Linked DNA regions of Homo sapiens: region 2 is linked to region 1. The links come from fine-mapping of genetic effects on gene expression. Tissue or cell type: esophagus muscle. Region 1 holds a variant in brackets; the other region holds the start of a gene. All regions are shown on one strand. Distances are between the middles of the regions.

Region 1 (8,094 bases):
ACGCATGCACGGGAGGACACACGCACGGAAGGGACATGCGCACAGGGGTGACAAATGCACAGGGTTGACTCACGCACGGGGGGCCGCACGCATGGGGAGACATAGGCACGGGGGGGACACAGGCACGGGGGGGACATAGGCACGGGGGGGACGTAGGCACAGCGGGGACATACACACAGGGGAGATGCAGGCACAGGGAGGACGCATGCAAGGTGGGACACATGCACAAGGGGGACGCACGCACAAGGAGGACATGTGCACGGGGGGGATGCATGCACGGGGGGACGTACGCATGGGGAGAGACATGCTTGGGAGGACGCACGCACAGGGAGGACACACGCACGGGGGGATGCACGCACAGTGGGGACACACGCACACGGAGGACACATGCATAGGGTCGTGGGAAGTGGAGCTGCTGCCAAAGACAGGCCCGGGGAGTGGAGATGGGTTCTCCCTCCACGCTTGCCCGCCCTCTCTCTTCATCCTTCTGCTGCTCTTGTTCATCCATGTATTCAGAGAATGTTGTCAGGGTCCCCGAGGGCTGTCTGGGACCTCTTCATCCTTGGTTTGAGCCCACTAGAGCTCAGAAGCAAAACCAGTATCTCAGAACCCGAACTCCAAACTCAAGTGTGCAGCCCAGAATGAGGACTGGCGGGCAGGGGAGGCTGGCAGCCACTACCCTCACAAGGCTTCCACAACTCTAAAAATCCATGCTCCCTTTCGGTGGCCATACAAATTTCATGCCTCATTTTATTTTATTATTTTATTTTATTTTGAGATGGAGTAGGGCTGGAGTGCAGTGGCACCGTCTTGGCTCACTGCAACCTCTGCCTCTTGAATTCAAGCGATTCTTGTGCCTCAGCCTCCTGAGTAGCTGGGAACACAGGCAGGTGCCACCATGCCCGGGTAATTTTTATATTTTTAGTAGAGATAGGGTTTCTCCATGTTGCCCAGGCTGGTCTCTAAGTCCTGAGCTCAGGCAATCCACCTGCCTCAGCCTCTGAAAGTGCTGGGATTGCAGGCGTGGGCACCACTCCTGGCCTCATGCCATCTTTTAATATTCTCTTAATATTTGAAAATCAAAGCGAATTCAATCCTGTGACAAAATGTGAATGAGAGCAAGGGGACTTGGCTGTGCCCCCGTGTTGGGGGGAACATCCTGGCCTCCCCACCTATAGAGAATCACTGCAGGCAGATTGGCAGCAGGATAGAGCCCCCAGACCTGCAGCACACAAGGGCTGCTAGTGTCCCTTACACTCACGCAGGAGGGTACCTGCAGGAGGCCAGCCCTGTCTTCCGACAGCTCAGCCAGTTAGGCTCCTCGCGCTGGTCAGTGCCCTTTCAAATGCAAGCTCTCCTCTGGGGGATGGAACCCAGTCCCTCAGTCCTTAGCGTGAGAGGGCAGCTGATGCATGCCTATTGCCAACCACATCTTGACATTTTCTGTGGCTTTTAGGGGTTTTGTTTTGAAGCAAAAAGGGTGACTCAGAGGCCCAGAGAACTCCAAGGTTGTAACCCTAGAGACCAGGGCGAGCATCCTACCAAGATCAGGTGGATCATCTCAGTTCCCCAACAGGCAGGGAGGGAGAATCACCTGGAACCCTTGTGTTTTTTAAATTTATGTTTTATAGAGATAGGATCTGGGTCTCACTCTATTGCCCAGGCTGGCCTGGAACTCCAGGGCTCAAACAATCCTCCTATCTCGTGGGATTACAGGTGTGAGCCACCTTACCTGACCTGGAACCCTTGCTAAAATGCAGACTCCCAGACCCAGCCCACCCTATTGAGTCGAAATCTCTCTATTTTTTGTTTTAGGCAGGTCCTGACAAAGTTGTGTGTATGTGCATGCCGTGCAGGGGTCTTTCAGCCCAGCCCTCACCTCTGCTAGGCACAGCCCCTTGGCTTTGCGGGCACCTCCCATAGGGTCAGCATACACAGAGTCACGGGCAACCCATGGAACTGAAGGAAGATGTCACCGCGCTGCTAACACAGCCTCACTAGTCAAAACCTGGTTCTGCGCTTCCTCCTTTCTTTCTTTTTCTTTCTTTTTTTTGAGACGGAGTTTTGCTTTTGTTGCCCAGGCTGTAGTGGAATGGTGCAATCTCGCTCACTGCAACCTCCACCTCCCACGTTCAAGAGATACTCCTGCCTCAGCCTCCCGAGTAGCTGGGATTACAGGCAAGTGCTGCCACGCCCGGCTAATTTTGTATTTTTAGTAGAGACAGGGTTTCTCCATGTTGGTCAGGCTGGTCTCAAACTCCCGAACTCAGGTGATCTGCCCGCCTCGGCCTCCCAAAGTGCTGCCTCTTCTCTTTTATGAACAGGAAGAACAATTAAGGAAGAGGTGCTGACACTCCAGGACCCCTGAGAGGCGTCGAGGAGCCTGAGGAGGGCGGCTGCCTCCATTACAGTTCTTCGAAGGTTTGTTGACTGCATGAATGAAGGAGATAACAGGGCCAGACTCCCAGGCATGTGGGCCCTGTGGGGTCCAGCTGGCAGCCCTCACCACTGTGACCACGGGACAGGTGGGCGGCCCACTGAGCCAACGCCCATCTGCCACGGGCTGATGCGGTGAGAGCACAGCTGGAGGCCTGGCCGGGGGTCTCCTTCCTTCCGGCCCCCCGGTCAAGTTCACTGTGAAGAGAGGAGGTGAGACGTCCAGCCCGCCCTGGGATCCCCGTGGGAGCCCAGTTATTTACTGGAAACAGTGAGGGATGAATTCTTGGCAGCTTCACTCCATGCGAAGCAGAGACACGGCTCAGCACCAGTCTGGTTTTGATCAGTTCCAACCAAACAGACAGCTTGTTAAACCTGAGCTGAAGGCCTCCCTTCTGGAACCCTTGCCCTGCCCTCCCCTCCCACCCCAGGGCTGTAAGGCCCCCTTGAAGAGCAGTGGGTCCAGCCCGCCCATTTTACAGATGGAGAGACCAGGCTGGAGTGCAATGGCATGATTTTTGGCTCACTGCAGCCTCCGCCTCCTAGGTTCAAGTGATTCTCCTGCCTCAGCCTCCCCAGTAGCTGGGATTACAGGCACCCGCTACCACGCCCAGCTAATTTTTGTATTTTTAGTAGAGACGGGGTTTCACCATGTTGGCCAGGCTGGTCTCAAACTCCTGACCTC[G/A]TGATCCGCCCGCCTCGGCCTCCCAAAGTGCTGGGATTACAGGCGTGAGCCACCGCCCCTGGCCACCCTCAAGGCCCTTTGATCTTCCGCCACTTCCAGTAGCTGGAGCCTGGGCTGGCAGGGCCCCAGCAGTGATGGATGTGCCCTCCTGGCATCCCGTTGGGAAACACGTGTCCACTCACGCAGGTCCTGGGGCTTCTGCCCGGCATTCAAGCCCCCAGCCCTGGCTCCCATGGCTCATTTGCCCACACGCAGCCCTTATGTCCACTCAGTGCCTTTATCTCCCCCAGCCACATTGTCTCTGCCCCCACCGTCTCGTCCTGTAGAGCCGTCCAGGCCAGAGTCAAGTTTATGAGTTCCTGATCTAGTTCACACATGGCTTTCACGTGTGGCCCCTCACTTTATCCCCACCATTACTTGTGAAGCAGGTGCCACTGTGATGGTCCCCATTTTACAGAGGGAGCCACTGAGGCTTGGAGATGCAAAGTCACTGCCTGCTGTTGGTGAGCAGGGATTGAGGTTCTGATCTGTATGTTCACTTGCTGCAGGGCTTGGCCAAGAGGCTCAAAAAATCCTGGAGTCAGGGCTAGAAGGAGTCTGGGGAGGGAGTGGCATTTAATCCAAACTCAGGAGATCACTAACACTCAGAATCTTGGAAACTCTGTGCCTGGAAGGACTCTTGCTGGTCACTGAAACCACCCACCCCACTCAGCAGTAGCCTCCAGCCCTTGCTTGGACACTCCCAGGGATCGGAAGCGCACTTCTTCCCACTTGGGTCAGCGCCTGCCCTTGTGGGACTGCTGTGACTGGAGGAACACCTTTTCTCCCACAGAGCCAAGAGCTGTGTGCCTCCCAGGCCAATCAGAGTCTGGAGGCCACCACAGAGGGCCCCTGGGTCCTCTTCCTTCCAGGCAGGCAACAAGGGAGGAATGGGGTGAGGTGGACCTCTGGGGCTGGGCTGGAGAGGGGGGAGGTTCCCAGCTCAGGCCACAAGGGCAGAGCAGGAAGTTCAACCCCACCTGCCACTGATGTGTGGCCCCCACGAAGTCTCTGCCCATCTCCGAGTCCTATTTCTCCATCTGGAAATGAGAGAGGGCAGCTGAGAGGCTGACAAGCTCCCAGTTCGCAGTGTGGGCATCATCAAGGGCTGTGGGAATCTCAGGTGACCTTTGACTGCCCTCATCTCCCCAAGGTTGTGGGGGTGCCGCACCAGCAGCTCCTTCCAAGCATTGATTCACAGCTGGGGAGCACCTGGTGGGCAGATGTGGGCTCCCGTCACCCTGCTGGATCCTGCTTGTGTGCAGGCATGAGTGTTCGTGTGTGTGCGTGTTGTGCACATACGTGTCTGAGAGTGCATTGGGAAGTGAGGGCAGCACCCAGTGGGGTCAGGGGAAGGTGCTGGGTCTGCTGACTCACAGTGGGACCCTGGGAAGTCCCTGGCCCATCGCGCCCAGCCCCTCACGGGCCCTGAGTAGTGCCCTTCTGAGCAGAGCCTCCGCTGCAGCTCAGGGCCCTGGGGCTGTGGGGGCGTGAATGTGCCTTCTCCGCCCCAACCTCCGCCCGTGCCAGACACCGAGGCAGCGAGTGAGTCTGCCTCAGGCAACGAGTGTCTCAGGAGGATGCAGCCATGCAGGGCATTTTCTGAGAGCAAAGAGAGCCTGGTGTCAAGGTTGGGTGGAGGGGGTGAGGCCTTGCTCCACCTCCCAGAGTCTGGTTGGAGGTGCAGGGAGAGGGGTCACTGGCTCCCCCAGAGTCGGCCCCCAGAGTCGGCCCAAGCGATCTCAATGGCCCTGTGAGGTCAAGGATGAATTCCCCCTTCCACAGAGGAAGAAACCAGGGGGACCTAGCCAAGGTCACTCCCTCAGGGCTGACTTTTTATTTTACTTTATTTTACTTTACATTATTTTACTTTTTATTTTATTTTATTTTATTTTTGAGATGGAGTCTTGCTCTGTCGCCCAGGCTGGAGTGCAGTGGCGCCATCTCGGCTCACTGCAAGCTCTGCCTCCCGGGTTCACACCATTCTCCTGCCTCAGCCTCCCGAGTAGCTGGGACTACAGGCGCCCGTCAACACACCCGGCTAATTTTTTGTATTTTTTTAGTAGAGACAGGGTTTCACCGTGTTAGCCAGGATGGTCTCGATCTCCTGACCTCGTGATCTGCCCACCTCGGCCTCCCAAAGTGCTGGGATTACAGGCGTGAGCCACCGCACCCGGCCAGGGCTGACTCCTCAGCCAGCAGTTGCCCCACACAGGACTCAGGGGAGGATTCTGCTGGGCCTGGGTGGCAGGTGGGGCTGGAGTGCTCTTTGGCCTCCCAAGAATATGGGAGTGAGAGAGGCTCTGGGCAGGACCCTGCTGCCCTGCAAACTAGCATCCACACCTCAGGGCAGGGCTTGGTGTTTTCCAGCTGGGAGGAGGTCAGGCTGCAGGAGGGGATCTGGGAACGATTTGGTAATTAGGCAAGAGGCCTTGACAAGCAGCCTCCGGGGGGTCCATTCAGGGGGGGCCCTGTGGCCTGTGGTGAGGCTGGCCACTTGCCAGCCCCATCCTCACTGGTCCCCCAAGGCCCCTCTGCTCACTGCCAGCACTCCCAGTGCACCAATAGCTCTGACTGAGCAAGGAGTGGCTGAGGGCTTCATCCCGCTCCAGCCTCAGTCACCGTGGATGGACTCCACAGCCCTGTGAGGCCGGCCCTTCTACTGGCCAAAGGGAAAATGAGGCCCAGAGAGGGGCTGCACTTTGTCCAAATCCACACAGTGAGGCTGGCTTGGGCCAGCCCTCTCTGCAGCCCCAGAGAGGCCACAGGGCAGCTCTGCAGGTGAGGGGTACCCGGGTTGCAACCTGCCATGCCCCTTGCTGAGAGGCCAGGGGGTGTGAAGAAACAAGCTACAGAAAAAAGCTGAGGGACCCAGTCAGGACAGGAGAGGGCGTGGGGAACAGGTGAATGTTGGGGGTCGGTCTCATTGTCCTCAGCTCTGGGAGGGAAAGGACTGAGGTGGGTTATAAGAGGTGGGCAGACATCATCCCACCGTCCCTGAATGCTAGAGCCCTGGAAGGGCCCGATGGAGCAGGGAGCTCTTGGCCTCAGCTTCCTGAGTCCTGACCAGCCGCCTGGCATCCCTCATCCCGGTACCGCCTCACCCCTCCCCTGAGCAGCCCTGGCTCTGAGCTGCCATCCACCCTGGTCTTGAACAGAAAAGAGGTGTGTGGGCTACCCCGACTCCTCCCAGTGCCCAGGGAGGGCCCCTCCTCAGGCGTCCCACCCTGGCAGTGGGGATGGCAGGCGGGAGGTTCTGCAGGGGGTGGTTGTCAGGGCCTGCACACTTGGGCTGGACCCACTGACACTGCGCTGACCGCCAGTGGTGCCAGGTCCTGTGCTGAACCCTCACAGGCATTCTCATATAATCACCCTAAATGGAGGCACAAGATGTGGCAACCAGTATCCCCGTCTCAGTCTTGACTCAGAGAAGCTTCGAGACAGAGACATACCCAGGAAGTCATCTGGTAGGTGGCAGGGCCAGATGGTCAGTAGGCCCCTCTGACCCCAAAGCCATGATTCCTCCCTACCCCCAATCCCCATCCTGCACTGCCTCCCATGGTGTGGCATGACCTGGAAATGAGGTATGATGTGGGTGGGTGCCCACAGACAAGCCAGGACAGGGGATTCAATCCATTCTGAAGAGGAGTCGGCCTAAGCGAAGGGAGTGGCTTCCATGCCCAAGGCAGGTGTGGAAAACAAGGCGTGGGGGGTGGCAGTGGGAGGAGGAAGAGGAAGAGGAGGAGAGGGGCCAGACCTCGAATGCCAGGGTGAGAAGTGGGTTGCACTCCAGACCAGCAGCTCCTCGAGGCCAGGGTGCCATGTCGTGACGCTGCCCCACACCGCTCAGAGCCCCACACAGGACAGGTGCTCCCCAAATCCCTGAGGTTTGTCCAGAGAACAGCCATTTCTCCAGGGGGCCCTGCGAAGTCACGAGGCCAAAAGGCCCCCAGCCCGCTTCCCGGTGAAAGCATTTGGTGGTGCCTGTGCTGGCGCCCTACCGGTCGGGGTGGTTGGGTGGGAGGCAGTCGGGGTTGAAGGGGATCTTCCCTCTCAAGCACCCCTGTCTTGTGCCTGCCTCTGCTCCCGTGCCAGCTCCAAAACAATCCCAGATGCTTCTGGCATCACCAGAGCCTTCAGAGTAAGGGAGGGCCTCCTCTCTCCCCTGGAGCCTCTGGCCACAGCATGCCCTCTGTACCCACCCGTGGTCAGACCCAGGTCTCGCCCAGATCTTTGAGCAGCCGATTTGTGTTCTCCCAACCCTTCATCTGGTAGCCAGATCCTCTGGCCTGGGTGGCGGCGGGGGTGGGGGGTCCTCCCCTTTCTCCTGAACCCCTTCTTGGCCCAGGGAAAGCACGACTCCCCTGGTGTCTGAGCCCGGCATTTGGAGCCCTGGGCTGGGCAGCCAGCATCCAGAGCCAAGAACCACAGGCTCACCGGAGTGCAGGGCCTGGGAACCGCTCACCCACGGAGGTGATGTGGAATCCGTCCGTGCCCCCCTCGTTGTGTGTCAGAGTGATTTATGGGCAGATGCTGAGAGAAGAGGCTGAGGAAAATAAGCCTTGCCAGCTGCCAACCTGTCACAGATCGGGAGAGAGGGAAAGGGCCGAGCTGCTTCATGACCTCCAGCAGGCTCCTTCCTTCTCTGGGCCTCTTCTGCCTCTGAAATCGGGGTCTGAAAGCCAGCCCCAAATCACAGACTTGCCAGAAGGATCAAGTGAGAAGTTGGCCGTCAAGCCCCTAGCGCAGAGCCTGGCACAAAACAGGTTGCACCCCTGCTCCAAACCTGCAGTGGCTCCCACGCTCCCTCAGTCTGACCCTCGTCCCTCACTGACATCATCTCCGGCCCCCATGGCTCTGGGGTTTACAAGAGCCGCCATCTGCATTGCGAGGTCTTCCTGGACCACTGAAATAGACTAGAATCCTTCCGACCA
Region 2 (8,094 bases), 740 kb before region 1:
GCCGCAGGCCTGCAGCAGCTCGTCCGCCTCCACCTTCTCCAGGAAGTAAGCGGGCGCCAGTAGCGGCAGGCGCACGTGCTCCAGCAGGCGTCGCAGCTGGCCGCGGCGGGCCGGCGCGTCGTGGCGCACCCAGCGCATGGCCGCTTCAAACACGGCCTCCTCGCGCGCCACGCCCAGCGCGGGGTCCGCCAGCAGCGCCACCACCTCGTCAGGCGCCAGCTCCAGGAAGTCGGCGTGGCGCGCCACCTCGGCGAAGGCCTGACGCAGGACGCGGCCGCAGCGCTCGGCCAGCGGGGCCAGCGAGAAGGCGGCGGCCACGCGGCGCAGCGCTAGGCTGTTGGCGGCGCGCAGGCGGCCCTCGAGAAAGCGCACGCAGGCCTCGCGCAGGCCCGCCACGCCCAGCCGCTCCGCCAGCGCCAGCACGGCCGCCGCCTCGTCCTCCGCGCGCAGCCGCACGCCCGCTCCGTACACGTAGTCGAGCACCACGGCCAGCGCCGCCGCCGCCCCGGCCGGGCTCGTGCCTGGCGCCTCGGGAGCTACTGGCACCACTGGCACCACGGCCGGGCCGCGCTCGGGCCGCCCGGCCGCGAACAAGCTGCGGAAGTAGGCGCTGCCCGCGCTGAGCGCCGCGCGGTGGCACGGAAAGTCGCGCCCGCCGGCGCGCAGCACCACGTCGGTGAGGGTGCCGCTCCGCCGGTAGGCGTTCAGGGCCTGCAGCACGCGCTGCGCGTGGCACGGACCCGCGCACGGCGCTTCGCAGCCCGGCTCCGACTCCTCCGGCGCATGGCCTTGCCGCATCCTGCCGGGGAGAGAACACAAACAGCGTCGGGGAAGCCACCTGGCTGCGCCCGGGAGAGGCGACAGCCCTCATCCGTTTATTTCCTCTCTTGACCATTTGTTCAGCGACTCTCCCCTCCGTTCAGCATCCAGGTTCCTTACGGCTACAGTGCCCCAGCCCCGCCTCACCAGCGCGACATTCTGCCCTGCCTACCCACTCAGACACAGTGCCCTTTTCGGTTCTTCAAACTTGCTAAGCGTTTTCCTATCGATATCTGCAGGTAACAGATGGCACGCTCTCAAACAGGGTAATCGGAGGAGGGTCTAATAAAGGAACTATTTTCAACAGCGGAGTAGGCGTTAGGGACTCCAGTAGGAGTAGGGCTGTGTCCCAGGATACTAACAGCAGGGCGCCTTGGCCGCCCCGGGGTCTGTAGCGGGAGAGCAGGGAAGTTACTGGAACCTGGAAATATATCTGTGTAAGGAGGGTCCCGTGACAGGAGCTGAAGCCCTGGGTCAAGGGACTCAGGCTGCCCCACAGAGACCCAGTGTGTGCATGTGCAGGGGAGAGAGGGTACAATAACTCCACCGCCCTCTGCTCAATCCAGCCTGTCTCCTGCCGATCTCCGGTAGGTGCTGGACACTGACCACACCCTGAGCACTCCCCTGACAGACAGCATCATACACACAGCTTTCGCGCAAACGAATTCGACAAGTATTTATTGGGAGCCCTTTCTGTGCCAGGCAGTGAGCAAGACAACCATAGTTACGGTGTGCCCGGAGCTCCCAGCCTGGCGGGGGTGCCATGGGGAGGCACCGGGTGTTAGGGGAGTTCATAGAAGGGCCGCTGGACCCAGGTGGAGGGGAGTCAGGGAGGGCGTCCCTGAGGGGAACCTTCCAGCTGAGAAGGATGGGCGAATTCTGAAAGGTTAGAGCCCAGGCTGAGGGAAGCTGGCCCTCTCTCTAGTGAGTTCTCTTGGTGTTCTCCAGGTAGCACCGTCAGAAAGTGGAAAGAACTCTAGGGACAAATGGGGATTCTAACCCAGTGCCTGCCACAGGCTTACGGTGTGGCCGGGGCAAGTCACTCCTCTCACCTGCCCGCCCTGGCCTCAGTTATCTCATCTGAAATGGGATCATCATCCCTACCTCACAGGGCTGTGGCTTCATGACTATTACATGGGCTGTATGAAAAGTGCTAGTACACAGTACGAGCTACATGGGTGTTTCCCTATATTGCTTTTACTCAAGAGGAAGGGAGGACACTGTGTGTGCCAGTTGCTTTTATAGACATAATTTAATTTCATCCTCACAAGCTGAGAAGTTTCTTTAGCCCACACCTGCCCCTTTAGTTTGTCATAAGGGAAACAAGCACACACAGGACACCCGCCCTTCAGAAGTTTGCGGCGAGGCTCAGCAGAGGGGTGTTTGTGAAGGCGCTCTGCAGACTGAGGGGCTGGGCCATGCTGGTTATGATTTGGCCATTATGAACACAAAACCTCTGCTTGCACACCTCCAGGGACAGGGAGCTCCCTCCTTTCCATCAGCTTACTCTAGGGGGCTCAGGTCCACCCTCTGCGCCCTGCCTCTCCTTCCATCCTCCTGCTCCCAGCTGCTCTGCTGCCTCTGGAGGTCAGATCCCGCCTAGTGTCAGCCTGGCTTTCATGCCCTGGTCATCCAGGGCAGCGGATCCCCTGGTCAGCATCATGAGAGATGAGCTCCCTGGTGGGCAAGAAAGTTAACTACTTTTGCCCAAGTAGAGCGACTGGATCCTGAATCCACCTGGCTCCAGGGTTTGCATGCCACACTTGCCAGGGTGGGGGTGTGTCCCAAGGAGCAGCCAGGACCGGTGGAAGGAAGTGAGACCGGTCATCACAGCACGCTGCAACCAGTCTGTCCTCCACTGGCTCAGAAAGCACAACCATGCTCTGAGTTGAGACTCAAGAGGGCAGGTCTCATCAGCATAAGGATGGACTTCTTGCAAAGGTGCCCCACAGCACAAGCAGCTCCCTGGGGGAGAAAGAGTCCCCTCCTAGGAAGTGTGTCAGTACTTTTTCATTTTACTGTCTACTGCGCTGGGCACTCTGGACACACAGTGACATCAGATCCAGCATTCACTCTGGGGATCCCCAGTCTGGGGGTCAAACGACACCCAGTTGGAACACAGAAGGTAAAAATTCCCAGGTAGGGCTCAATGGGTATCCTCCCTTCTCGGCTGAGTCTAGGCACTTCAAGCCAGGGGTCATGATGCAGATTGAAGGGCCCAGCCTATAGAAGCTGACTCGAACATGCCACCATCACTCTTTTACACACCCACATCCACTTGAAGCCATTACCCAAGCACCTCCTCCGCATCCTCCCCATCTCAGACTTGCGGACACCACGCAGCCGGGTCAGCCCTGCAGCCTAAGCCTTGCCCCATGCACCTGGCACTTACCTGGCCATACCCTCTCCCAAGTGCTCCGCAGCTGCTGCTCTCACAGGTATCACTCCCGTTTGTGCCTGCCGCCCGCACCCCTGGCAGCCCAAGCTCCAGTGTTCATGCTGCTCTGCCCAGACTCCCGTTTGCTGTTCGCTCGGGCTCAGCTGCGGGAGGACAAAGGGGCTGGACGCCAGGAGGGAGGGGAAGGGAGGGGAAGGGAGAAGCGAGCAGGGAGGGGGATGCTGGGCTTTTGTTCCACTCTTGGACTAGCCCTGGGAGGGAGGGAAAGAAAGGGGGGGCATAAGAGTGGGATTGACTGTGTGTGGAACTCCAGGATTTGGTATGCCTGGGTTTGGGGGTGACCTGGTGCTGGCCTTGTCCCGGAATGACGATGGGTTCGAAGGTGTGTGGTGCTGGAGTTGGGGTGTGGGAGGGGTGTCATCATGCAGTTGTAGGCATGTAGGTTTCAGGGTGACTATGCGTGATTGTGGAAGTACATGGAATGAAGTGACTGTGTAGCATTGGGCTGCGTGTGGACATGTGGCTGTGTGACCATGTAGATGCCAATGTGACTAAGCATGTGGGGCGGGGGGCACAGTGGCTCTGAGTCTCATTCCCTTGAGCTCAGGGAGAGGCGGGAGCTGACCTCTGCCCCAGGAAGCAGAGCACTTGCCAGACATTCAGTAGCAGGGGCAGGAGGGCCGGTCCTCGAGGTTACTGTGGGGGCCCAGTGGAGCTTCCAACATTTGCAGAGGGCTCTTTTCTTTTTTACCTATAAGGTGCCAGAATCTCCTAGACCCCAAGAATTCTATCCAGAAGATCCCTGTTTGGAAGAGACACGTCCCTTGGCTCCCAGGAAGCATGGAGTTAATTTGATGCAGGCTGGAGCTGGGGCTCAGCTTCCCCCTTTTCCCTCAGGTCACACCCATGACCAGGCAGACTCTCAGGACAAAGAGGGGAGTTACAGGCCTGCTCTGACACCACCACTGACTCCTGCCCACAGACAGCAGAGGTCCCAAGGACTGGAAGGAAAGGACACCTGTGGTCCCAGGGCTGTACTTTGGCTTTCAGCTCAGGTGCCCCCAGTCCTGGGCATGGGCATGGGCCCTCCTCAGGCAGGTCCAAAGCTCGGAGAAGTCAAAGCCAAACTCCTGGCATGGGGAAGAGGCCTCCCTGTGCTGAGGGCTTGTCCCAACATAGCCGGGAGGTTCAGAATGCCTTCATGTGGCTGTGAGGGCACCTGCCAGTCCCACTCCCAGCCCTACATTGGACCCAGGAGCCCTCCCCCTCTGCGTGTCATTCCTAGCTTATGGGAGGCACACATATGCGCTGGGGCCAGAGTCTGGATGGGATTCTGGCTTGGCCTGTTCTAAGCTGTGTGGCTTTTGGAGGTCACTTTACCTCTCCAAGACTGTCTCCCCATCCACCATATGAGGATACCGGCTCCCAGCCACTGGCACCATGGCGGACCCAGGGAAGGGGAGGCACCATTCTGCCACTTTCCCATTCATTCCTGAGAATGGTTCCTCCTCAGATTATAGGGTCAGAACTGAAACCTAGACCCAGCGCACTTGTCCCCACCCTCCTGCTGGCAATTCAGAGACAACACACATCAAGATGGCAGCTTTAATCACATTGGCCAAGGGCCCTAGGTTCCCTCTGTTCAGGCCCACTTAGCCACACACCCACCCTGGCCATATCCAGAACACTTCTACCAGGTGGGCCCTGCCCTGTGGCCACTGATGTGGGAACCTGAGGTCACATCAGTCTGTGGACTCCTGGGTTAGGTGACCCTTCTGCCTTGAGGTCTGCTGGACACCTGGGCATGGGATCCAGTAGTCCTGAGCTCACTCTTTTGGCCATCTCCAGCTGCTCCTAGAGGACGTGGCTCAGGCCCGCTCCTGGGGCAGGGGGTTGGCGGTGGCATGAGGTGGGTTGGGGAGGAGGACGTGTCTCCACATTGCAGCTGGCTTCCTCCTGGGCTGAACCTCCTTGTGCTTTGAGACTGACAGGAAGAGCAGAGTTGCTTCAGGTAGAGGCTCGGCCCAGGCCCTTGGGGCAGGATAACAGCAGAGAACTCAGGTGCCTCCTGGCACAGACAGGAGGACAGATGGCACAGGTGAGCATCCACACACTCCATTGCCACAGGGGGTATGGCATGGCCCATGACCCATCAAAGCTTCCAGGTCGGGATACAGGAGAGGGCCTCAGAAGAGGGGGACCAAGCCCTAGGCCCCATACTTCCCAGAAGGAGCCCCAGGCCTGCAGGGGCATCTGAAAGGATGGAGTCCTGGCCCAGCTGGGCCTCAGGAGACAGGGAGTCCCCCTCAAGAGAGGCTGCGGCTGACAAGGGGCTGGAGCCCACAAGGAGGCTGTGGAGCCCGCTCCCAGAGCACTCCGAGTTCAGACACACTTCCACCAGCTCTCCTAGGCTCCCCAGCTTCTGTGTCAGGTACAGGTGGGACAGACATGTCTTCAGCTAACGCCCACTCCGCTCTATGAGGGTCTTGGTGTGGCTGCCACCCCCTCGGGGGCCCACAGGGGTGGCGGTGCTGTTGGCATATGTGTCATAACTGTTGTCTGAACATACGGAGAGCACATCGGAGACCTCTACACCATCGCTGATCTCTGCTGGGCCAGAGGGAGACAGAATGTGAGTCGGGGAGGAGGCAGTCGTGAGGATGGGTGACAGATGGGGCAGGAAGGCTGCACCACCCAGCGGGGCACTTGGAGGCTGATGAAACCACTGGGCTCAGGTCGACATTGAGCCTGGCACTCAAGGCCCCTTTGGTGTCTGCTGAGCACTCTAGCTTCGCCTTCATCTGCTGTCCCCTGGGACTCTGCAGCCACAGAAAACCACCTGTGCCCCTGAGCTTGGCACCCATGTGTCCACTCTCCTCAGGGCCTTTGCATGTGTCAGCCCCTCTCTTAGGAGTGACTGCCCCAACAACACCTCCTTTTCCTACAGTCTGGCTCAAGTCTTCTCATCTGTCACTCAGCCTCCTGGGAACCTCATCGGAGCCCTGGGCCGAGTTAGGGCCTCCTCATGGCAACTCCAGACCCTGCTTCCTTCTGCCCTGGCCATATTCTGTATGGTTGCTGCCTGGGCCCCCAAAATACCTCAAGGACCAGGGTGGGTTCTGGGCATCTATGTCCCCAGGGCCTGGTAGAGTGCTGGACACAGAGCAGAGGCTCAAGAAAGCTCTGCTGAGTGGAGTTCGGCCATATAGAGGGACACTTCATTCTTGGTGCCCAGGCAAGCGGTGCTCCCTTGCCACCTCTGCACACATGCCGTGCCCACCTGGAATGCCCTTCCTTCCCTCAGCTCACTCGGCCCTCATCTTGAAGCCATTACCAAAGCACCTCCTCTGCATCCTCCCCATCTCAGTGTATCAGGCGCCCAAAGCCTTCCTCACTGCCCAGGCAGCTCTGACCACGTCCTCCCGCCCCCCGCCCGGCACTCCCATCGCAGGAACTCGACTTTCCCTGCCACTGTTTATATACGTAGCTGCTGCTTCCATCAGACTGGGAATGTTGACAGGGACTGGCAAAGAGCAAGGGTGAGGCCAACATTGTAGGATCCAAGTACGAACCAGGCAAAGGGGGATGGGCCTTCAAAACAGACTCCTCTCCCTACCCCACCCCTGCCCACCAACCATGGCACTGACACCAAGCCATGGTGGATGACAGGGTGGATGACTGTGTGTGTGGGGGTGTGTGTTTTCACACGTGTACTTATGCCTTTGTATGTCTGTGGGTATAATCCCGGTGGGTTTATGTACGTCTGTGCCCTTGTCCCTACCCATATGTGCCACATGTGAATGTGTGTGCATACACATCTGTTTGCATGTGGGGGTGCAGAAAGCTGGGCCCAGGGCCTGCCTCCACCTGTCTGCAGGGCTGTGTACCTGAGAAAATAAGCTTCTCCTTCATGATGCTGACGTCCCGGCTGGTCCGGCGCACCGCAGCACTCAGCATGATCTGCTCAGGGTTGTAGCTCCGTATGCCACCCAGGCGCCACCTGCAGAGATGGCCCCGTGGGCATCAGGTCTCTCCTCAGCCCTCCCTTGGAGCAGAGACCCTGCCTACTTCCAGAGCCTCTCTGGATGTGGCCCAAGAGACCAGCAGGACTCTTGTCCCACTGTACAATGGGGAAATAGGCCCAGAGAGGGCAGAGTTGGGGCTTGAATCAGAGCCTACTGACTCTCGGCCAGGGCTCCCTGGCCTCCCTCTTACCTCCAGAGCCGCCAGTCAGCAGCCCTGGCCCAGGACTAGGGTTGGTTAGTTCTGTCTCAGGTGTCCCCAGTAATGCACCTGGCTCTCTTTGAATGGGACAGATTTGGGAGCAGGAGGAGCTTAGTAGGCACGACTCTGTTGACCTAAGCTGGGGCACACACCAATCTCAGGGAGTCCCAGCTGATGTCTCTTATAGCTCCACCATCATGACCAGACTAAGTGAAGCCATTGGGGAGACCCCTTGAGAGGGAGGGAAGGAAAGCAGGGGGGTGGGGCCAGGTGGTAGGGGGCTTTGCCCAGAGCTGGTCTGCACAGGTTCCCAAGGCAAGGGGGTTAGAGTGACTTGGAGTGGGGCCAACTGCTGCTCTGTCCTGGCAGTCCTAATGCGGAGGGAGGTCAGAGCATGAATCCCTCTGATGGCTGAGACAGGTGCAAGGTGGGGGTAAAATTACTCAAGAGTGGGCTGGGAGGTGGAGCATGCACAGGGCATGAAGGGACCAGGCACTAAGTGGAAAGGACTCAGGTTTCTGTGCCCAGCCCAGGCCACTGTCTTCACTATTGTCATTCCTCTGAACTAGCCCCAGTCCCTGGCCTCTGAACTTAGACCTTTCCTGGGATCTAGGCAGAAGGATCACTGGACTCTCACCCCTGTCCCCACCAGG

Alleles and levels. Positions count from the first base shown, and alleles are read on the strand shown. Sizes are in standard deviations (SD) of each study's normalised expression.
In carriers of allele A in region 1, the expression in esophagus muscle of the gene that starts at base 3,372 in region 2 tends to be higher than with G alone (moderate effect, 0.64 SD a copy in GTEx).

What was found. PIP is the estimated chance that this variant, and not a neighbour inherited with it, causes the effect.
Region 2: it holds the start of KLHL35, and the variant in region 1 is fine-mapped to the expression of KLHL35 in esophagus muscle (GTEx, PIP above 0.99).

What each region holds. Positions count from the first base shown.
Region 1 is chr11:76,165,140-76,173,233 of GRCh38, forward strand. No RefSeq gene overlaps it. Among named protein-coding and RNA genes, the nearest start is that of WNT11, 37 kb to the right of the region's middle. RefSeq lists an enhancer at 1-329. The variant G/A (reference allele first, on the strand shown) is at 3,122.
Region 2 is chr11:75,429,832-75,437,925 of GRCh38, forward strand. It overlaps KLHL35 (kelch like family member 35), which reads right to left and starts at 3,372. Exons shown (of 7, transcript NM_001039548.3): 1 at 3,212-3,372; 2 at 1-799. The coding sequence starts at 798. GDPD5 (glycerophosphodiester phosphodiesterase domain containing 5) reads right to left here. Exons shown (of 17, transcript NM_030792.8): 16 at 7,105-7,217; 17 at 4,809-5,824. The coding sequence ends at 5,676. RefSeq lists silencers at 352-401, 482-721 and an enhancer at 2,010-2,896.